Homo sapiens: one gene and its partner. The protein of the gene in region 1 interacts with the protein of each later gene in a pairwise test. Each region holds a gene or a part of one and is shown in the gene's direction. Other genes may lie near its edges.

Evidence for each region. The genes of interacting proteins can lie anywhere in the genome.
Region 2: the proteins of BEGAIN (region 1) and RIBC2 interact in a two-hybrid assay, tested with the Homo sapiens proteins (one large-scale study listed by BioGRID and IntAct).

What each region holds. Positions count from the first base shown.
Region 1 is NC_000014.9:100,577,346-100,580,994, reverse strand, and holds part of BEGAIN (brain-enriched guanylate kinase-associated protein), read left to right. Parts: intron 1-3,649. UniProt on the Homo sapiens protein: May sustain the structure of the postsynaptic density (PSD).
Region 2 is NC_000022.11:45,412,135-45,415,883, forward strand, and holds the start of RIBC2 (RIB43A-like with coiled-coils protein 2), read left to right. Parts: upstream 1-1,558; 5' UTR 1,559-1,752; coding exon 1,753-1,881; intron 1,882-1,943; exon of another isoform or gene 1,944-2,092; intron 2,093-2,187; coding exon 2,188-2,269; intron 2,270-3,749. Other genes in the region: SMC1B (structural maintenance of chromosomes protein 1B), read right to left, coding at 1,325-1,433. UniProt on the Homo sapiens protein: Microtubule inner protein (MIP) part of the dynein-decorated doublet microtubules (DMTs) in cilia axoneme, which is required for motile cilia beating.

The sequences.
Region 1 (3,649 bases):
CTGTCCGGGTGTAGAGGGGCGACTGTCGGGGACCATAGGGTGGGAGGAGGACACTGTGGCCTCCCGAGAGCCTGAGATCCCTCCCCTATATTCTCATCCTGTTTCCAGTCACAGTAGGCCCACACCAGGCTGGGGATGTTTGTGAACTGACAGCCTGAACCTGCTATGCCATTCATTCAGTCAGTCATTCAAGAACTACGCATTGAGCACCTGCTATGTGCCAGGCCCTATGCAAAGAGCTGGGATACAGTGGAAGTTACATTCTACGGGGGGACACACACACAGATAATAAATAATTGCAAACATTAGTTACAGCTGGGGGCCAGGGCTATAAGGGGCTGCCGCAGGGGTACTTGATCTAATCTGAGGGACAGAGGGGGACAGGCTGTGAAACTGGGACCCTGAAGGTCAGCTGGGAATTAGATGATGGGAAGGAGGGGAAGGGAGAGAGTGAGAGTGTTTCTGGCAGAGGGAAAGCAAGTGCAAAGGCCCTGAGGTCAGATAGAGCTTAGCACATTCAGGACCTGAGAGACGTTCCTTGGCAGCGGGGAGCACGGGGCGGGAGGGTAGCAGAGAGAGAGAGAAGACACCAGCAATTGTCAGGGCCTTGCAGTGTATATGAAGGTGTGACGTTGTCTAGTCACCTGGCCTGTGATTTTATTTATTTTTTCTTTATTTATGTGTTTATTTTTTAGATAGAGTCTTGCCCTGTCACCCAGGCTGGAGTGCAGTGGTGTGATCTCAGCTCACTGCAACCTCTGCCTCCCGGGTTCAAGTGATTCTTCTGCTTCAGCCTCCCAAGGCTGGGACTACAGGCAGGCGCCACCACACCCAGCTAATTTTTGTATTTTTAGTAGAGATGGGGTTTCACCATGTTGGTTAGGCTAGTCTCGAACTCCTGACCTCAGGTGATCCGCCTGCCTCGGCCTCCCAAAGTGCTGGGATTCCAGGCGTGAGCCACCGCACCCGGCCTGGTCTGTGATTTTAAAAGGTCACACTCGCCGTGTTTGTGGGATAGGCCGGGCTGGATCCGCATCGACTCAGGAGGCACAGGAAGGGATGATCGCAGATGTCCAAGTGAGACATGGTAGTGTCTGGTACCAGCAAAGTGATGGTGAGGATGCAGGGAGGTGGCCAGGCCTGAGAAAGGCTGAATCTCCAGGGCCTGGCAGCCAGGGGCGGGGACAGGGAAGAGGGAAGGAAAGAGTTGAAGCGGCCCCTGTTCCTGTCTTGGGTGGCTGAGGCCATGGTGAGGCCACGCACTGAGTTTTGCAGACTCAGTCAGGGGCGCTTTGGGCATTCAGAGAGGTGTCCGGCAGAGCTCAGAAAAGCAGGGGTCCTCAGCACCTGATGGAGGCATCCAGACAGAGCCCAGATGTACAGCTATGAGCATGCCACACAGGGCCTCAGCCTCGCTCCAAGCAGCACCAGAGGCCAGGCCAGCGATGGTGGTAATGCCCACCAGGCCAAGGGCCTGGGCTGCCACCCCTGGAAAGCCTTCCTTCAGTCTAGCAGCCTAAAGCCGCATCCTAGGAAGGATCTCTGTGTGGGGTGCAGTGGGCAGGCGTGTCTCCCTTCACACAAATGATGGAGGGTCCAGGTCTGGCTCTAACCCTTCTCTAAGTTTATCTCCCTGGCCCCACTCCCACCTAACTACACCCGAGGCCTCCATGTGCCAAAGGCTCTTGCTCATAGCGTTAACAACTGCTTTTTCTCACCCTAACCCTGTATATCATTGGAGAATTGCACATAGCTGCTACCAACAGAGATGAAATAACCATAGCTTAAAGACAAGAGGTTATTTTTCTTTCAAGTTAAAGAAGTACCAGAAGCAGGCCAGGCACAGTGGCTCACGCCTATAATCCCAGCACTTTGGGAGGCCAAGGCAGGCGGATCACCTGAGGTCAGGAGTTCGAGACTAGCCTGACCAACATGGTGAAACTCTGTGTCTACAAAAAATACAAAAATTAGCCAGGCATGGTAGCAGGCGCCTGTAGTCTCAACTACTTTGGAAGCTGAGGCAGGAGAATTGCTTGAATCTGGGAGCGGAAGTTGCAGTGAGCCGAGATCATGCCATTGTAATCCAGCCTGGGCAACAAGAGCGAAACTCCATCTCAGAAAAAAAAAAAAAAAAAAAAGTACCAGAGGCAGATGATGCAAGGCTGGTGTGATGATGATTCAGTGGTCATGAGATATCCGGATTCCTTTTGTCTTTCTGCTCCTCCATCTTTTATATATGGCTGCTGCCACAAGTTTGTCTCATGGTGCAAAATGGCTGCCACAGCTCCAGCCATCACTTCCATGTTCTAGAGAAGAAGCAGGAGGTTGGTGAATGGGAAAAAGACACAGGCTGGCTGTCTGATCTTTTCTGCAGAGTTCTGCCAGCAGTCACACCCAACTTCTGTTTATAGTTCATTGGCTACCTCCTGGCCTGGCTTATAGGAGCCTGGGAAAGGTGGTCTTTTAGCCGACTACCCTGTATCTCAAAAGAAAATGAAGGCTCTGTAATAAGGATGCATGGGAGGACTGTGGGCTGCCCGCAGCCTCTGCCACCCCCTTCCATTTGCTGGTTTGCTGCAGTTCCAGTTTGCCCTGCTTCAGGCCCAGCACTCAAGCCATCATGGTGGCCACCGTGGCCATCTGTCCACTGCCTGTCCTCTGTGCCCCTGCACCCTGCACCGCACCTGGCAGAGGAGATGTGAGAGTAGGAGAGGGGGAGGCCCAGCCTAGGGCCCTGTGCACCATGGGAGCTCACTCAGGGAGGGCTCCTCCCCAGGCAGAGCCCAGGACACGACCTTCCCCTCTCTAGCACTTTCTAAGCCCTGAAGCTCAGCTCTCATTTAGTGAGAATCGATTTGGGGGTGGGAGGCCAAGAGGCCCTGCCACTGGATCAATGGGCAGGCGGGCATCTGGCAGGCAGCCCTGGCCTGTGAGGACGGGAGGCACAGCCCCCAAGAGGGCACAGGGATCCCAGCCCCATGGGAGGAGAGGAGTGGGTGACGGCGCTCTTGGGGAGCCCGGACCTTGGACTGACTCAGGAGGATGCTCTCAGGGGCCAGCTCCCAGGCACGGGGCTCTAACCCTACCTGTCCCAGGCAGGACGGCTACAGCTCCCTCCTGGAGCCCGGGACAGAAGCCCCCATCAAGGAAGCTCACAGACAGGACCTTCGAAGCCACATGCCAAGCCCCAGCCAAGGTCGGAACCCCAAGGGCAAAGCATCTTGCCACCGCTGGGCAGCTCGGTCCAGCCAGGAGATGGCCCGGGTGTCGCCAGCCCAGCCTTCCTCCCCAGAGTCCCTGAACACAGGCAGCCGGGCTGTCACTGGCTCCCTCGCACGCCTGGGCCGCTGGCGGGAGGCCAGACTGCCCTTCTCCAGGTTCCTGGATGAGGTCACTGTGCGGGTTCTGGACCCTGGGACCCTGGAGGCCTTCAGGGTGCCCAGAGGCCGCAGCCCAGAGCCCTCTGCAGTGGATCGAGGCCAAGGTCTAGCCCAGGAGGCCCTTACAAGAGCTGCAGCCCCAGGGGAGAAGGACCCAGCCCTGAGCTCCCAGCTTTCTTCGGAGGCGGCCACTGAGGCTGCAAGCAGAGTGGGGCCAGGCCAGGCCGTGGGAACTAGTGGGCCTTGCTTGGGCAGTGGCAAGCGTGGAG
Region 2 (3,749 bases), on another chromosome or scaffold:
CTCCCAAAGTGCTGGGATTATAGGCATGAGCCACGGCGCCCGGCCAATTTTATTTTATATTTATCTTATTTTATTTTATTTTAGAGTCGAAGTCTCGCTCTTGTTACCCAGGCTGGAGTGCGGTGGTGCTATCTTGGCTCACTGCAACCTCTGCCTCCCGGGTTCAAGCGATTCTCCTGCCTCAGCCTCCTCAGTAGCCGGGATTACAGGTGCATGTCACCACACCCGATTAATTTTTGTATTTTTAGTAGAGACAGGGCTTCACCATGTTGGTCAGGCTGGTCTCGAACTCCTGATCTCATGATCCACCCGCCTCGGCCTCCTAAAGTGCTGGAATTACAGGTGTGAGCCACCGCGCCCAGCCTTTTTTTTTTTTTTTTTTTTTTTTTTGAGACGAGAGTCGCACTGTGTTGCCAGGCTGGAGTGCAATGGCGTGTCCTTGGCTCACTGCAACTTCCACCTCCCAGGTTCAAGCGATTCTCCCGCCTCAGCCTCCAGAGTAGTTGGGATTACAGGCGTGTGCCACCACACCCAGCTAATTTTGGTATTATTAGTAGAGACCTCCGCAGGTCCTCTGGCCTCTCCAGACCTCAGTTTCCCCAACTATAAAATGGGGAGAGCAGCCATGCGCCATGGCTAACCAAAGACGGTGTCGCCAGGAACTTAGGAAAAGCTCAGTAAACTGGGTCATCATCACTACATTCCTGGGTCAAAGCTCCCTTGGATCCAAATGGTGGTTCTGGCTGCTTGGAACCCATTACCTCCTCGACAGCTCCCTCTCACTTCAACTTCGGATGAGAAGGGAAAAGGGACGCGAGTGACCAGGGCCAAGGGCAAGAGCAGTCCCCGAAGCAGGAGTGAGGGCAGAGAACAGGGCCCAGGGCGGGACCGGGGCGGAGAGGAAGCGTCAGGACCCCCAGGGTGGGGGGCGAGGGTTGGGAGCCCCTGAGATGAAGGGCGAGGGCCGGAGCTGAGGTGGGGTGGGGTCCCTCAGGGTGTCGGAGGAGGGTCGGGAGCCAGGAGGTGGAGGGCGAGAGCGGGGCCCGAGGCGGGGCCGAGTGGAAGGGTCAGGACCTCCGAGGTGGGGCGGAGGGACAAGGGTCGGGACCCCTGAGGTGGACGGCGAGGACCGGGGCTGAGGTGGGGTGATGGGCAGGGGCTGGGCCAGGGCCAGGCCGGGATCCGGTCGCGGTCAGGCTCCGGGACTGGAAGGGGAAGGCCGGCCAGGCGCCCGCGGCAGACGCCCACACCCCACAGGCCACGTGTGGCCTGGACGCCTGGGACGGCGGAGGCGCTCCGGTGGCGCCCTGAGCTGCTCAGTTACCAGAGCCGTTGGGGCCGATGATGCAGGTGAACCTCCGGAAGGGGCCAATGACCTGGCGGCCCCGCCACGACTTGAAATTTTCCACAAGCAGCAGCTCCAGGTGGGCCATGGCGCCGCCCTCCACGCCTCACCCGCGTTATCAAGCGCCCGCGGAAAAAGCGCGGGAAGGGATTCGCCAAGTGTCGCGAGAAGAGAGCGAGACGCGGCAAGCGCGGAGCCGTTCCTTAGCAACGAGTTGTTGACATTTCCGAGAGAGCGGGAGCGTCTGTACCTCTGCGGCGTCACTGGGAGCCCGACGGAAAACTGCGCTAAAGGCTTGTCTTTCCCCTGCCCGACCGAAGGAGCCGACCTTGCCTGCGCTACAGCTTCCTTATTTTCGTCGCCTGTTCTCCTGATCCTGCGTGTTCTAAAAACCCCTTAGGCTTTCCATGGGTTCCCAGACCATGGCGGTGGCGCTGCCCAGGGACTTGCGGCAGGACGCCAACCTGGCAAAGAGGAGGCACGCGGAGCTGTGCAGGCAGAAGCGGGTCTTCAACGCCAGAAACAGGATAATTGGGGTGAAAGGGCAGGGGCCGGGACGGGGTTAGAGCGGCAGATGCGGGCGAGGGGCTGCGTGGAGGGGGAAAGGAGATGAGTTCTAGGATGAAACATCTGAGCCAGGAGGCAGCAAACGGCCTCCTGCAGGGCCAATAATGCTCCCTCTCGAGCTCGCCTGGAGTCACCAACGGTTCTCCTCCCCTGAGCCAGATTTTCTACAACTCGTTTACAGTGGGGCAGAGATTAAAAATAATAATAAGTAGGATTGTTATTACTGAATAAAATGATCTGGCTCTAACCCTTCTCCTCTGTTTTTCCATTTATAGGGAGACACTGAAGCCTGGGATGTTCAAGTTCATGACCAGAAGATAAAAGAAGCTACTGAAAAAGCTAGACATGAAACCTTTGGTGAGCATTTCCTGAATGCTTATCTATTGGTTTAGGATTGTGTGGCTTTAGACTCCAGTCTTCCCCACCGTCCCCCTGCCCCGCCTTTTTTTTTTTATTTTTTATTTTTTTTATTTAATAGAGATAGGGTCTCACTATGTTGCCCAGGCTGGTCTGGAACTCCTGCGTGCAAGTGATCCTCCCACGTCAGTCTCCCAAAGTGCTGGAACTACAGGCATGAGCCACGGTACCCAGCCCTCCTTTCTTCACATATATAAAAAGTTGTCATTTTCACACTCTTCTTCCTTTTAAATTTCACAATTTCTTGTGCCCAGTTAACTTAATGCACTGATTCTTCTCTTAAAAACAGCTATTGAATTCGAATGTGGATTATAAGAAATAGATTTTAAGGGTATATGTATGTTTTCCTTCATTTTCTTAAAAAACTGGATAGGAAAAGCCTTAAACACAGAAAGACACACACACACACTCACTTGCTCTGCTCAAAAGTTTAAGACCGTCTATGAAGGACAGCTGTTTATACCAGACAACACATATGTCCGGGCTCACACCCTCAAGCTGACTCAGAGACAGACATGATTCAAATCATAGTATTCAAGTACCTTGAATACTGTTATTCAAGGTATTATTATTCCACTTCAAATACAACTTATTTTCCCCTATCGTGTCCAACAATTTCAACAATTGTTGAAATTTCACACTTTGAGAGGCTAAAACTAGAGGATCACTTGAGACCAGGAGCTCCAGACTTGCCTGGGCAACAAAGCGAGACCCCATCTCTACAAAAAATAAATTGAAAAAAAAAAAAAAAAGAAATTTCAGTGTTTTTAAACACCATAAAGATTTTTATAATAGAAAAAAAAGCAGGATACAAAATTGTACATACAATGGGCTGTTATGTTTTTAAAATATTTTAAAATATGCTCAGAAGAAGAAGAGAGGAAATATGCCAAAATGTTAGCAGGGTAATGTTGGAGGGATAGAATTATGAGTAAACTTTATTTTCTCCTTTATACTGTTCTGTATGTTCTAAACATTTTATCTTTTTTATTAATATTTTTAGTTATGAGGTAATTCAATCTTACAAAAACAATGTGACAGGTACATATGTACCCACCATCAGACTAGATGTTAACATTTTGCCAGATTGGCTTCAGATATCTTCAGTGTTTTTTGAGAATTGTGTTTTTTATATATGTGTATATATATATATATATATATAACAACACTGCCCTGCCCCCTACCTCTTAATTTTCCCCTCCTTTCTCCTCAGAAGTGTTTATCATTCCCATGCTTTTTTTTCTATTTTCTTTTGAGATGGAGTCTTGCTCTGTCTTCCAGGCTGGAGAGCTGTGGCGCGATCTCAGCTCACCGCAACCTCCGCCTCCTGGGTTCAAGCAATTCTCCTGTCTCAGCTTCCCGAGTAGCTGGGATTACAGGTGCACACCACCATGCTGGGCTGATTTTTGTATTTTTAGTA